Regions from separate parts of the Homo sapiens genome. Here region 1 is linked to region 2. The links come from fine-mapping of genetic effects on gene expression. Tissue or cell type: cerebellar hemisphere. Region 2 holds a variant in brackets; the other region holds the start of a gene. All regions are shown on one strand. Distances are between the middles of the regions.

Region 1 (7,697 bases), 36 kb before region 2:
CAAGGGCAATATGCATGGGTAGGGAGGGAATGGGGAGGAAAATTTCTTGGCAGTCTCCCCTTTATCCTCTGCTCTTCTCCTCTACTTTTTAGGCCTCCAAGCCTCAGCACTCATCCTGTTTCTCATTCTTAAAGGCCTCTCTGTTAGCTGAAGACCCAAAAGAGGGTTGCTAGGAGAATAGGTTGTAAGCCTAGAGTCACAAATAGCCATCAGACAGGAAGGGTCTGCCTACAGGGGCATCAGCTCAGAGGAAAGCAGAGCTGAAACACAGTGATAATGTCATTTGAGTCTTTGGATCCAGCCATGCCTGAAGCCCTGCACTTTTAAATTAAGGGGACCAAAAATTTGCATTTTCACATAAGAAATTTTCAACTGGGTATCTGTCACTTATAAGAAGAATAACGTGAATAGCATTCTAACACTGAAACAGTACTGGATTTTCTAGTATGATTTTCAAGTACAGGTCTTCTATAACAGCCAAGGGAGGATGCAGAGAACTTTAGGATAGAGCCATTGCACATGGAAAGTCCAGAATCTGGAGACACTGAGGAGAGGAAGAGAGCTGGCCAGCCCCTGCCTCAGCAGGCCTCTGCTCTAGGGATAGGGTAAGATACTCAAGTCTGGCTTCATGTCTGAAGCTCTGTAGGGAAGCCTGGAGAAAGGATAGGCCAGCCCCAATTCGAGGGTTCTGCAACCTACAGTTTTTCCTGAAGTTGTTCCAGGTAATGATGGTTGCTACCTTCTGCTGAGCCTATGCTACATGACCAATGTATTACACTGTCTATCGTTTTATTTCTCACAGCAGCCCTGAGAAGTAGAGATATTGGCACAATTTTCTAGATGAAGAACTGAAAGCTCACAATGGTGCAGTAACTAACTAGTCACATAGCTAGTAAGCAGCAGAGCAGGGATTCAAATCTAGTGTATTAGACTCCAAAACCTGTGTTTTTAACAACCATATTGTATGTTACTTCCTCCAAGATGGGTCAATGAGGCAGGGGACGTTGATTGGCTATATGGAGAATTAATAATAATCTTTTCTGTTGGTACAGCCCTAGAGAGTTTACAAAGCACAATTGTATATGCAGTCTCACTACATCCATTTTACAGATATGGAAACTGAGGCTCAGAGGTAGGAAGTGATTTACTCAAAGTCATTTGGGCAAACAGGATAAACCACCCAGAGATAACTCTCCTTAAATTAAGCAGGCAGTCTGTAGTCTGCGAATACTCATAATGTGTGGGGGGAGGAAGGAGCTGGCCTCACCACACTGAACCTTGAGGGCAGTGATGGTATCAGTCTGTCCAAGGAAGGTCTCAGACAGGTGAGGGGACCAACAGGTATTGCAGCCACAGACCCAACTGCAGAACACAAATCCCACTACACCAAAGGGCTCTGAATTCACAAAAAGATTCCCAGTTCCAGTCGGGCACCATTTATTTTTCAGCAACACTTGATATGGGCAAATTCCAGTTCAACTAGAGAGATTCAGCTTCCTGGTGTTCCCAGGGGGATCTAGCTCTGAAAAGAGCCCCTTTCTTCTGTCAGGACATCCTCAGCAAAAAAGGCTGCAGGTCTGAGCTGAGCAGCCTGGAGAGTGGGGATTCCAACTCCCCCCGAGAGTGTCTACCTGCCTGGCTTCCTCCCTGAGGAAAGTCACTGTCCCAGCCCAAGCCCTAGGGGCCCTCACTGTTGGACCTGCCCTGATGCTTTGCCAAACTCAGAGGCACCTCTCCTAGACGGACAAGGCAAAGCTGACTTTCACTGTTCCCTGGGTGATCTGCACCTGGAGGAGTGATCAGGCAGGGATCCAGGTGATGGGACAGAAGGGGCCAGGGCAGCCACTGTTGTTCACTGCTGGAAGTGTGCCAGGGGACTGGAAGGTGAACAGCAATCCCACCTGTCTCCTAGAGACTCTGTCCTCCGTGTGTAGGGGAAAGTAGGGGATGGGCACACAGGGAGGAATCCAGCCCTGGGGCTTCCTTGAAGCCAAGTGAGCAGCCTTCTGTATTTGTTTTCCCACAAACAGTCTTTGAAACTGGGGCAAGTGTTGAAGGCAGAACAGAGTAAAAGAAGCAGCTTCATGAGGCCAAACCCAGTCTCTCCAGGTCTAGGTAGTCCAGCACAGGTTCTGGGAGTAAATGCCAGCTTTACCACTTGATTTCTTTGGTACGACCTTAACTTTTTGCCATCCTTTCACTAGTATTTGAGAACCCTCTGCATATTAGGGCATCAATGCTAAGCAAAAAATGGGTTCAGTCACCTTCCTGGAGGTTCCAATCAGTGGAGGAGACAAATATTAATCCAACAACCAGTACCCCCCTACCCCTACCCCCACAGAAAGTGTCAAATGCCCAAGAGATAGATAGTATATAATTAGAGAGACTTCACTCTCTCTGGAAGGTCAGAGAAGGCTTTCCTAAAGAAATGATAATGGAGCTGAGGTCTGGAAGAAGCATAGGAGTTTCCTGAAGAGGGTAGGAGGGGGCACTGCACACAGAGGGAACAGGACAGTCAAAGGCAGGCCATTTGGCAACAGGTGACTGGAAGGAACTGGAAGAAGGCCCATGAGGCTGAAGTACAGAGTGAATATGCAGGGTCTAGGCAGACCATGCAAGAATGTGGGTTTCTCCTAAGAGCAATAGGAAGCCTTTTGAGGTGCTCTTAGCAGGGAAGTGAGATGATCACACTTATCGTTTGAGAAGATTACTCTGGCAGCACAGTGAACAACGTATTGGAATGGAACCAAGGAGCATTCAGGAGGCCAGACAGAAGGTATCAGGTATTTGCCTGTAAAATGGGGGTGATGAGAATACTATCTTACAAGCTGTTGCCAGGATCCAATGAGATACTGCATTTTAAGTGTCTAGTCTAGTACCTGGCACATAGTAAAGGCTCAGTAAGCGTCGATATTGTTACTTTTATCATTGGTTCTTTGCAGAGTGCACATATTTCTTATCCAGGTCTGCTCCTGCGTGATGGGGTGGAGGGAGTAGTTGTGGTTTCCAGAGTGAAAACGTGATTTGTGTCAAATCACAATGTCGAGACCAGAATCCAGGATGCCTGAAGGCCCGATTAGAATGGCTTAAAAGTATGGATTATTCAGGAAGAAAAACGGGTTCCAATCGCTCCTACTAAGGACGCTGGAGGGATGGTGAACGATCCTTTAGATGGTAAGCCCTAGCACTTATTGAGAAAAACAGGTGCTTCTTTGGTCGGAGAGCAGGTGTAGGGCTCGCAGCCGCGTGCGCTCCCGCGGAGGCGGGGGACCCTCGCCACTCCCCCGCCCCACGCCCACCCGCGGGCTTCCGACTGCACCTGCTCCCCCGGCTCGGAAACGCGGGCCGGGTGCCGGGCTGCAGGCAGAGGGTGCCCGGGGGAGGAGGTCCCGAAAGCCTCCTCCACACGCCTGCACCGGCTGCCCCCTCCCCAGTCACGTGGCCCGGTGGGTGGGGACCGACCTGAAGTTGGAGAAATCCGGAGCGCTCCCAACCTCGGAGGGAGTCGCCAGTCCTCCGGGCCCGGGCGGTGGACCCTGGAGCCCCGGCTGGCGGCGTGGAGGTGCGTTTCTGAGAAGCCGAGCAGCGGCGCGGGCGGCGGGACTCGAGGCATGGCCCGGCTGTCGGTGATCCCCGGGTCGGCCACGGCGTGGACAGGTGAGCAGGTACCCGCGGCCAGCGGCAGAGATGGCCGGGGCTGCCAGGGCATCGGGCCCCAGAGCCCACGCCAGTCCAGGGGATGCGGGGCCCCCACGCAGGAGGGGGCGGTTGGGTGAAAAGGCCGCGGTGGATTCTCGGACTGCCGGGTCAGTCCCCACCAGCGCCGCCGCCTCCTCGCCGGCTTTGCCACCGGGTGAGCAGGGGACGCGGGACGCGGGACGCGGGACGCGAGGGAGCCGCGCGGGGCGTGGACTCTGTGCCGGCCCCGCCCCCCGCGCGCGCACTGGCTGCTCCCCGCGACGTCACGCTCGGCTATAAAAGGCGCGGCTCGGGGCCCTTGCGGCGCTGGAGGAGCTCGAGGCTGAGGCTGCCGGGGGGCTGTGGGCTACCGGGCCGCCGGCGCCTCAGCGATGTTTTACTCAGGGCTCCTCACTGAGGGCGGCCGCAAGGAGACCGACATGCGGGAGGCGGCGTCACTGCGACAGCAGCGCCGGATGAAGCAGGCGGTGCAGTTCATCCACAAGGACTCCGCCGACCTGCTGCCCCTGGACGGCCTCAAGAAGCTGGGCTCGTCCAAGGACATGGTGAGCCCCCGCCGCCGTTCTCGCCCCGGCCCCGGCGGCTTCGCGCCCGCCGTTTTCCGAGGCCCGGCCGTTGCGGCTTTCACTGAGTCACGGCCCGGCCCGCCGCTGCCCTTGGCTCGCGGTCGCTGCGTCGCGGATTCCTCCCCTTCCAGTACCCCTGCTGCGGTTTCGGTGGGGATTCCGTCGTAGCTTTTCTAGCTTGCGCTCCCCTCGGCTGTGCCTCCTCCCTGGATGTCTCTTCTCCAGTAGAAAGAAGAGGTCCTGCCCTGCCCTCTTGCCCTCGGGTCTTCTTTCTTTTTCCTTATTCTTAATACCGAATTTTGTTCACGGGGCTTGTGCCTCCTATGCTGTGTGGCTGTTCCTATGACCCAGACAGAGGTGATTCCTAATGGCTTTCCGTGAGGGGGAAAGAAGTGGAAAGAGGGTTTTTTGACAGTTGCCAGATCCAGAGGACTTCTGTTGAATCCATTGTCCCCCTATGCAAAACCCACTTCTCTAGTTTTGGTCCTAACTTTGACCTTCCATCCTGAGTGGGGAGAGAGAAAAGGGGCCAAATGTGAAGGTTTCCTGAACCCCCAACATCTCTTCATCATTCTCCTCTTCCAGCCCCGCCCCCAAGGAGTGGGTAGAGGGAGGAAGCCAGGCTGCTGCATCTCACCGACCAGCTAATGTGTGCATCTGGAGCTGGGGTGGGTGCAGTCTTTTTTTCTAGCACAGTTGTTCCTGGCATTAAGTAGAAGCACCTCAGGACAGGGGGCCTGGGGTCAAAGATGGTACTGTCCTCTTTCTATAGAATGGGATGGATGGCTAAGGGTTACCAATATAAAGAACTGTATTTGTCATCCCTCAGCCACTGTAGTGGTCCTGGGCCAAGTTTATGTTTAACTTTGTAGTTTTATCTGGAGTTTTCTTGTAGTTTGATTGTTTTCTTGAATTTCACAATCGCTTTATTCATTTGGGTGGTAATATGTGAAACACTAATTAAATGTCTTTTAACAAATGAAATAGGTGCTCTGCATAATTTTTCTAGTATTTTTTATTTTAAGCTTTTGAAATATTTAATTTTGGATGTGGTTGTCGGCCCTAGTTCACTGAAATTGCCATTTCTGGCCCCAGGAGGGCAGAGCTTCTGCATCCATTTCCTTTTTTTTTTTTTTTTTTTTTTAATTTAACAGCTCTAATGATACACAGGTACATTATATTATACACAGTATAATATAATATACAAAAATTTTTCTCCTCCCTGCCATTAGTTACTTCTGTGCAGAGTTTGTCTACTTCAGTTATCTTGCTCTGTTTTTTTTACAAGTTGTGTTTTTTTGTTTTGTTTTGCTTTTTGCACAACCCACAGGATAGTTTATCTGATTTATGCTAACCCAGAGTGATAAGTGATTGAAATGTGCTCCTGCAAAAGAGATAACTCTCTTTTCCCTTCTTTCACTTTAAAGCAATCTCGATTCATTTAACAAATCAGGTTCGAGAAGTATTCTTTCCTTCAGGCCAAATAATCCTATCCTAGTTCCTAGAATGCTCAGCAATCAATAAAGAAGGAAGTATTATATTAAGAGAAGAATTAAAATACAGAGTTTTTAAATGCTGGATTTGGTTGTCCCTCGTTGTCGAGGAGTTTCCTAGCCCTGAGAGCTACCTGAACTTCCTTCTGCCTAGGATTTCTTATACTACTTCATGCTGTGTAAGAATTCCATCCGCTTTTCTGACTCTAGTCTGTCTCAGTTGAGTCACAAAGGGCTGATAGCATACAGCACAGGCAGCAGGCTGCAAAGAGGAAGGAGCCTCAAGAAGCAGGATATTGCCTTGAGTATGACACATACACATGACAGTTGACTGTAAGGCTCTGAATCATGGTTCACGCTTTCTGTGCCCCACCGTCATGGAGTTGATTTCCCTCTCTCACTGTTTTCACACCTATAATGTACAAGTGATTGCACAGAACAGCCAGGTTACAGAAACCAAGGCAGACCGAGGTAGGGCTAGGAGAGCCGCAAGCGCTGGGGTGAGGCAGCATGCTTAAACTCTCTTGGAACTGTTGTTGCAGCCTTAGTACAATCTTAGAAGTGACCTTAGAAGTACATTATTATTCTTTTACTTTATAAATACATGTGGGATAGACCAGTGTTGACTCAATTTTCTCTCACTGCAAGGGAAATTTGGAGGATGTTAAAATTAATTGAATAGTTCTTACTTGGAGTAGTTTATAGTATAATCTCGATAGAAGGAGTCCAAGAAAAGGGAGAGGATAGCATCAGAGGGAGATAAGGAAGAGAGAGGAGAAATTAGTTGTTATTGACTTTTGGGTTTGTGAAGATTGTAGGTTGTTTTTCCTCATACCAGCAACCTATATTTGAATATACCGCTGGGATTTCTGAATTATCTACCTCTTACTATGCTGTTTCTGTAATGTTCACTGCTTGATACCAGCCTGCCAGCTCTTTTAGGACTGGCAGAAGGCAACCATAGGAAATCAAAGGGGGTCATGTTCTCTTGGCCCCAGGAAAGTGCCTTTGCCTATTCCTGTGTATCTGGAGTTGGCTGATACAAAGTCTTCTGTGGAAATTATATTTTTGTCTGCCCCTTTTGCTTTTATCCTTTTATCTTGTATTGTTCATTCTGTATTAGATTAAGAACTAAAACCAGAGATATGAGTGAGTAATATTATATTTGATTTTTTTTTTAAGAGACGGGTTCTCACTCTATTGCCCAGGCTGGAATGCAGCTGCAGTCACATCTTACTGCAGCCTCGACCTCGCAGGCTCAAGAGATCCTCCCACCTCAACCTCCTGAGTAGCTAGGATTACAGGTGCACACCACAACACCAATCTAACTTTTGTATTTTTTGTAGAGATGGGATTTTGCCATATTGCCCAGGCTGGTCTTGAACTCCTGGTCTCAAGCGATCTGCCCACTTTAGCCTCCCAAAGTGCTGGGATTACAAACATGAGCTACCACACCCAGCCCTGATTTTTTTTTTTAACTCAGTGAAGCTGGAGAAAAACATCTCCGTTCTTGGAAATTTGCCTATTGTAATTTATCTTGTTTTAGCTACCAGGTTCATAAAAGTTTTTCTCATTGTGCTAAGGACTTTTTAATTTTTAAAAACAGTCATGTTATGTGGTAATATGCTGTCTTTCCTAAATGATATTATACTTACCTGTAGGCATTAGGCCATATTCTTACTTGTCTGGCAATAGAGTTTTTCTTTCCTACATATGATTGCTTCTGATCATAGCTAAATGCTTTTTCAAAACTGACTAGAATTAGGAATGATGCTGGGGGAAAGATGGTTGAACACAGTAAAGCAAACTTACCATAAAATACCTGAACAGAATCTCTGTCTATTAGAGCAGGTCTGTGTGGTGTGCCCTATAGATTAGCTATCCATATCACCACAAATCATGGGCTGGAGAATTTCAGAGGCTTAGAAGAGAAGCGTGA
Region 2 (7,554 bases):
CCCTTTTTGTCATTTTCAGTTTGCAAAATCACAACTTTAAAGCCAGCTCTTTGCCTTTGTACCTACTTCTGTGCAGCAACTATGCTGTTTAGTCTTACTTTAAATTCATGTCCATAACCTTCAGGCCTTAATGCTGCCTGATAATCATATTTCCCTACTCTATATACCTTCCCATCCTCCTAGATCAGGAGTCAGCCAACTTTTTCTGTAAAGGGCCAGATAAATATTTTTGGCATAGCAGGTCATAGTCTCTTTTGCAATTATTCAGCTTTGTCACTGTAGCATGAAAGTAGCCAGAGGCAATATGTAAATAAATGAAATTTGAATTGCATTTATTTGTTACATGCTATGATGTAATATCATCTTAAATTTTTTTCCCAACCGTTTAAAAGTAAAAAAGTATCCTTAGCTTGTGGATTGCACCAAAATAGGATTTGACCAAAGGCTATAGTTTGCTGTGCTGTGTCCTAAATTATTTCACACCTTCTCTTTTCTTCCAACACTTCCTCCCCATTTTCACTCTCAGATGATGACCTTGTTTTCTACTTCATTCATCCACCACATCCACCCTCTTACCAGCATCTATATGCATATGTTCAGCTTTCCCTTCTGTTGCTGTGTTACCTAGCGCAAGATCTAAATACTATATAACCCACTGTTTATCTCCCTCACTAGAATCTAGTCCCAGGAGACAGTTTTGTCTGATGTATACCCAGAACCTGGAACAGTGTTTGGCACATAGTAAGTCCTCAACCAATACCTGAATGAATGAGTACTGTCTATCAGACTAGCATGCAGGCAAAAGTTTAGAGAATTTTACTCCAGGAGAACTTATCTCCGTTTTTTTTTTTTTTTTTTTGAGACGGAGTCTTGCTCTGTCGCCCAGGCTGGAGTGCAGTGGCAATCTCCGCCTCCCGAGTTCAAATGATTCTCCTGCCTCAGCCTCCCGAGTAGCTGGGATTACAGGCGCGTGCCACCATGCCTGACTTATTTTTTGTATTCTTAGAAGAGATGAGGTTTCACCATGTTAGCCAGGATGGTCTCAATCTCCCGACCTCATGATCTGCCCGCCTCAGCCTCCCAAAGTGCTGGGATTACAGGCATGAGCCACCGCACTGGGCCGGAACTTAACCTCTCTAAGAGAAAAGACCTACCTGTCCTGACAGTTGGAGATCTCTTTGATTATCCTAAGTTGTACTTTTTCAAATTTCTTTGAAGAAACACCCACAATAAAAAAAAAAAACTCCCATTTTATGGGATCAAACCAGTACATAATATGTATATATGATATGTGTAAGAAACCAAAGTTTCATAAAATAATTCTCTTTCTATGTAGATGTATTCTGAGGTGGTGTTTTCTATTCTGTTCTGTCATTTGGGGGAAATAAAACTGATTATATTGATTTCACAAACTACTAATGGGTTTGCGACCAGAAGTTTGAAAAATACTGCAGTATGTCCTACCAATTACAAGTCCTAAGTATGTACACAGAACTTTTTTTTTTTTTGAGACAGAGTTTTGGTCTGTTGCCTAGGCTGGAGAGCTCACTGCAACCTCTGCCTCCCGGGTTCAAGAGATTCTCAAGCCTCAGCCTCCCAAGTAGCAAGGATTACAGGCGTGCGCCACCAGCCCGGCTAATTTTTGTATTTTTAGTAGAGATGGGGTTTCACCATGTTGGCAAGGCTGGTCTTGAACTCCTGACCTCAAGTGATCTGCCTGCCTTGGCCTTCCAAAGTGCTGGGGTTACAGGTGTGAGCCACCTCACTGGCCAGTGTACACAGAACTTTCTATTGGCTTTCTAGTGCCCCACTCTTACATATGAATGGATGGCCAAGGATCTCTAGACGTTTAAGAAAAGCTTCCAACACAAAACAGAAACAAGCCTTAAAAATTCAACACAGACAATTCAAGAAACAAAAGAAAACATTAGCAATATTCTTAGAGTAATAAGATACTGCATCCACCAAATGGAACAGACTGCTATTTAAAAAGGGGAAGGGGGTGGACAAGAAAGTGCTTCCCTGGAGGACGTTATGCTGAATGGAATAAGCCAGGCACAGACAGACAAAGTCACATGATTCCTAATGTAGAATCTAAAACAAACTCACAGAATCAGAGTAGAATGATGGTTATCAGAGAGTAGGGGGAAGGGGTGGTAGGGGAAACAAGGAGATGTTGGTTAGAGTACGAAGTTTCAGTTAGATAAAGGGAATACATTTTTTGAGATAAAGAGTATAGCATGGTTAATAATAATGTACTGTATATTTCAAAATTGCTGAAGGTAAATGTCAAGTATTCTCACCACAAAGAAGTATTTGTAGTGATGGATATGTTAATTAGCTTGATTTAATCTTTCCACATTGTATACATATAACATCACTTTGTACCCCATAAATATATCCAATTTGTACTTGTCAATTTACAATAAACCTTTAAATTACAAAAATAAAAAATATTTTTAATTAAAAGAGAGGTTGACAAGAAAGTATTCTGGCAAATTTAAAACATAACAGAAATTTTAAAATTCAAAAGAAAAGCTGGAAGGTGGAAATCTTTCAGAAAAACAAAAAGAAGTGGAAAACAGGGTAGAAAGGATAAAATTATTTCAGGACAAAAGCTGTGCAGTAGGCTTAGAGAAAAACTAGTCCACAGTGAAGGAGGATGATGGGCTCCTAGAGAGTTGTCTCCAATTTAAAAAATAAACTGATTGATAGACTACTTGATGTGTTTCAATGTTTTGAAAGGACAGTTTGGAATAAATTGATTATAGACACTTGAATGCTAGGTACTTAAGAAAGTTGCATGGAGAAAGAGGCAATAGTTAACTTCAATCAAAATAAAGGAAATATAATCATATTATGCTAACTGGATCAATTACATACCTTTATAATAGTATAATGAATAGTACTCTACCTATATAGGGTGATATAGATAAACTGAAGGATGGAAGATGGAGAAATACATGTGTGTATTACCAGTCTTCAGAGTATAAACACATATCTTATTTCCTATAGAAAAAGTAAAATAATGGCCCAAACTGAAAAATTAAGAATTAGTAGTATAAGCATGCTATTTAGAAATACGGAGATAAATACCAGAAGAGGTAGCTGGGTGAATAGAGATTATATCTAGGGAGTAGAAACTGAGAGTGTGGAGGGCTGGGACAGGGTCTGCTGTTTTTCATTATAAACCTAGTGATACTATTTGATTTTTAATGTAATGATAAAAATAAAACAATATGATTAATGTGGTATTTCATTTATTTGAAAATCTTAGGAGGGACTGTATTCATTAAGTTTTTTTGTTTTGTTTGTTTGTTTGTTTTGAGACGGAGTTTCGCTATTGTTGCCCAGGCTGGAGTGCAATGGTGCAATCTCAGCTCACTGCAACCTCCGCCTCCTGGGTTCAAGGATTCTTATGCCTCAGCCTCCTGAGTAGCTGGGATTACAGGCGCCTGCCACCACGCCTGGCTAACTTTTTCTATTTTTAGTAGAGATGGGGTTTCACCATGTTGGTCAGGCTGTTCTTGAACTCCTGACCTCAAGTGATCTGACTGCCTCAGCCTCCCAAAGTGCTGGGATTATAGGCATGAGCCACCATGCGCCCAGGCTGGAGTGCAGTGGCATGATCTCGACTCACTACAACCTCCGCCTCCTGAGTTCAAGCGATTCTGGTGCCTCAGCTTCCGGAGTAGCTGGGATTACAGGTGCCTGCCACCACGCCCTGCTAATTTTTGTATTTTTAGTAGAGATGGGGTTTCACCATGTTGGCCAGGCTGTTCTTGAACTCCTGACCTCAAGTGATCTACCTGCCTTGGCCTCCCAAAGTGCTGGGATTACAGGCGTGAGCCACTGCACCTGACCTGTTTTCATTAAATATTCTAAGGTACTGGGAAATCAACAATATTGATTTAGCACCTCTAAAAGGAACTAAAAATTCTCCCCACTTTGGTACTCACCTGCACTGTGGTGTTTTATTTCAGGGAACCCAGTAACATCAGCAGTGGCACCAGCAGCTCTAGAAACATATTCTGTCCCCATAAATTGTTGTTATCATGGTGAACACCAGCAAGTGATGCACTTAGGTGGCTTTACAGGCAGCAGTAGGCTTTACAGTGGGCTGAAAAATCCCACTAAACAGGGCTGAGTAGGAGGGAGCATCCTAGTGGGTGCACACAATAAAGAAGAGGGCTCATAAGACGTTTCCAGAGTATGCTCAGAAATAACTGGAAGGATGTGTGTGTCCCCAGCCATAACCACTGGAGCCACAATACAAGGAAATCACCAATGTTGTGCATAACTCCATTTGTTCTCCTGGACTGGTGTTGCCTAGGCAAGTGCTGGGTAGATCAGAATGGATGGGGTGGAAGAATTAAGGGGCATCCAGAGAGCTATTTGATCACTGGAGGGGAAAGGGCATGGGGGGATGCAGACAGGTGGCAAAACCTGGGTCCAAGATATATTTGTCCCAGATATATAAATTGTCACTTTTCTCCCTCCCCTTCTGACTTGCACACTTACAAAGAAGGTTCCTCTTCCTTTTCTAACCATCCCCCACCAGGGAATTTTTCAGGCCTTACAAAGAAGGGAGAGGACCCAGGCCAGTTGGGAGGGTACACGTGGACCTACATCACTCTTTTTGAGGAAGTGAGTAGGGAAACCTAGTTATAAGGAAGCAAGGAAAATAGAGGGAGAGTGAGTACTAAGGCCAGCGCCGTCTATAAACAGAACAATTCCCGTGTGACCTGAAGGTCTAGGAAGACCCGAGGTGAGAAATCTTCACTCCCCTGCCTACTATGGTGCGCCGGATCCCGCCATTTGCACATCTTTGGGCATCTCAGCATCCCCTCTCATGGTCAGAAAGAAATCAAATGAGGATTCAAGTAGGTGCCTGATACTTTTCTTTTAGACTAACCAGAGGAGCCTCTCCCATTCCCCTTTTCCCTGGTCCCCACAAACATCATATTGTTTTAATCTGTCTCCAGGTATAACAATAATAAGACAAAGTCCTTACCCTCAGAGAGCTCACAATATTTTGGTGGAGGTTTGGGTATAAAGGCAAATGTGAAAACATAATTTTACTATAATGGGGTAAAGTTAAGAAAGAGATCTATGCAAACATAGAAAGGAGTGCACTTAAGTCAGTGAAGGTTTTCTGGCTTAGAAGAACCCTGACCTAAAGGAAAAGTAAGAGTTACCTAGATAAGAGCAGGGCAGAACAAGAGAAACTGATCCCTCCACTTCTATTGAGTCACCTGAAATTATATTCATTTTTTGGCAGACATATACCTCCCCCAAACATTCGGCTCTAGTTGTGCCAGTTCTTCCTTGTCAGCCCTCTTACCTTGGCCTGAGGCTTCATTGTCTCCAGTCAGGCGACTATCTCATAGTCACACTCCACTCACGGCAGCCACATTCTGTATTCCAGAACAGCACTTCCTGACAGCACTATAACATTTTCTAGCAGCCACATTTAAGAGGTCAAAAAACAAGTGAAATATTTTACTAATATATTTTATTTAACCCAACATATCTAAAATATTTAAACCATATTTTTAAATTACTGAAATATTTTACATTTTAAAAATATTGTCTTTGAAATTAAGTGTATATTTTATACA[G/A]CACATTTCAATTCAGTCTAGCCACATTTCAAATGCTCAATTGCCACATGTAGCTAGATAGTGGTTATACTATGGAGCTCTAAAATTCCGCCCAGACTGAGTGTGCTTGGTGTTTCTCCATTAAACAGATGAGGCCCATCAGTCTGAGGCACAACTATGTATTTTCTCTAAGTCTCTGTACCCCCAAGGCCTTGAAAACAATTCGGAAGGAAGAGAAGGCCTATGAGGTTTCAGCTACAGCAGGCACTCCCTTTAGATGCCAAGCCTAGAAAACCCTAAACTGATGCCTAACTTGCAGCTGAATCACCTTTCAGCAATCAGATTCAGTGCCTCACCAACACATTTGATCCAGGGAGTCTCCAGTTTGTCCTTTGTCCAGTAGAAGACCCACTACAAAGCCTTGATAATTCATCAAAGTGACAGCACCTTCACTGGGCAGTCTGGTGAGAGGACATCTAGCCCTGCCACCCTGGTTCCTGTTGGGAACAGTATCAGATACGTTGTGTTAGATTCACATGAATCTAAGAATCACATGGGCGAAAAATATTGAGAGCATTCTGTTAAAACATTTCCACAAATTGGGAAAAGACCATCTTTAAAAATCTGTTGGGGCCGGGCGCGGTGGCTCACGCCTATAATCCCAGCAATTTGGGAGGCCGAGGCGGGCGGATCACAAGGTCAGGAGATCGAGACCATCCTGGCTAACACAGTGAGACCCTGTCTGTACTAAAAATACAAAAAAAAAAAAAGAAAAAGAAAAAGAAAAAAAAAATTAGCCGGGCGGCGTGGTGGCGGGCGCCTGTAGTCCCACCTACTAGGGAGGCTGAGGCAGGAGAATGGCGTCAACCCGGGAGGCGGAGGTTGCAGTGAGCCGAGATCGCGCCACTGCACTCCAGCCCGGGGGACAGAACGAGACTCCGTCTCAAAAAAAACAAAAAAATCTGTTTACAGAGGTAAAAACACGGGTATTACATGGAGCATAATTTGAAATCCATTCCCTCATATTCAGCCAAGAACTACAGGCCCAGAGAAGGGAAGTGATTTGCCAAAGGTCATTCAACAAATCCCTAGGGGCTGTGATGATCCGTGTCCTTGCCATTACCTCCCTTGTCTCCACTAACAAAAATATTTCAATGGGAGAATGTGCCGATCTAAGGCACTCCTAAAGTACTTGCTGAGAATGACAGCCCTGGGGAGACAGGTCGGCAGCCCTGAACAGGCACTGCCTTACCCGGGCGTAGTGCCCCAATTCGCCACCTCTTGGAGTCCTAGGCGGAGGATACTACTGGGGCAGTTGTTTCGCCAATTCCACATCTCCCGGAGCCTGGCCTGGCCCAGCCCAGCCCCGTCGCTGTGACCCACTTCCTAGCTGCAGGCTGGACCAAGGGGAGGCACATGGGGAGCTCCACAGGGAGGCCACGCCCACGAGGGCAGCTCACAGAATTAGAAAGCCGACGGGGTGCTGTGGTCAGGAGGCGCGTGGGCGGCAGGTTAGTACTTAAGGTGCAGAGACCACCCCCAACCCTTTGACTGGCGGTGGGCATCCCGGAAAGGCATGGCTCGGCCAATTCCAGCCCCGTTTCCACGCTCAGCACCCGCCCTGCCTGTGCGCGAACGGCTCCGGCCCGCACGGGTCGCCAGAGGCGACTGTGTGACACTCGGAGTTTGCTGGGGTCTCCGTGGGCGGGAGGACTTTCCAGCGCAATGGCGACTCCCTAAGCCCCGCAGCTTCTGCGCCCGGGAAAGATATCCAAGAGATGCAAAGCTCTACTGGGCCCAGGCTGCCACCCCAGAGGCCCCCTTCCGTCCCGGGGCCGGGGCTAGGCCAAGGCGGGCACCAGGACTGCCCAGCCTCCCGGCCCTTCGCACTGGTAACCGGTTCCGGGGCGGATGCTTTTTGCATCTGACCCGGCGCGCCCGGTGACGCCTTCGC

Direction of the effects. Positions count from the first base shown, and alleles are read on the strand shown. Sizes are in standard deviations (SD) of each study's normalised expression.
As copies of A replace G in region 2, the expression in cerebellar hemisphere of the gene that starts at base 4,005 in region 1 goes up (large effect, 0.87 SD a copy in GTEx).

What was found. PIP is the estimated chance that this variant, and not a neighbour inherited with it, causes the effect.
Region 1: NRIP3 starts here. The variant in region 2 is fine-mapped to the expression of NRIP3 in cerebellar hemisphere (GTEx, PIP 0.99).

The regions. Positions count from the first base shown.
Region 1 is chr11:9,000,309-9,008,005 of GRCh38, reverse strand. It overlaps NRIP3 (nuclear receptor interacting protein 3), which reads left to right and starts at 4,005. Exons shown (of 7, transcript NM_020645.3): 1 at 4,005-4,244. The coding sequence starts at 4,071. It overlaps NRIP3-DT (NRIP3 divergent transcript), which reads right to left and starts at 3,918. Exons shown (of 3, transcript NR_183663.1): 1 at 3,463-3,918. RefSeq lists an enhancer at 3,909-4,828.
Region 2 is chr11:8,964,447-8,972,000 of GRCh38, reverse strand. TMEM9B-AS1 (TMEM9B antisense RNA 1) reads right to left here and starts at 7,326. Exons shown (of 5, transcript NR_073431.1): 1 at 6,853-7,326; 2 at 5,957-6,097; 3 at 5,345-5,460; 4 at 3,960-4,162. It also overlaps a transcript of TMEM9B not described here. RefSeq lists a silencer at 7,366-7,554. The variant G/A (reference allele first, on the strand shown) is at 5,622.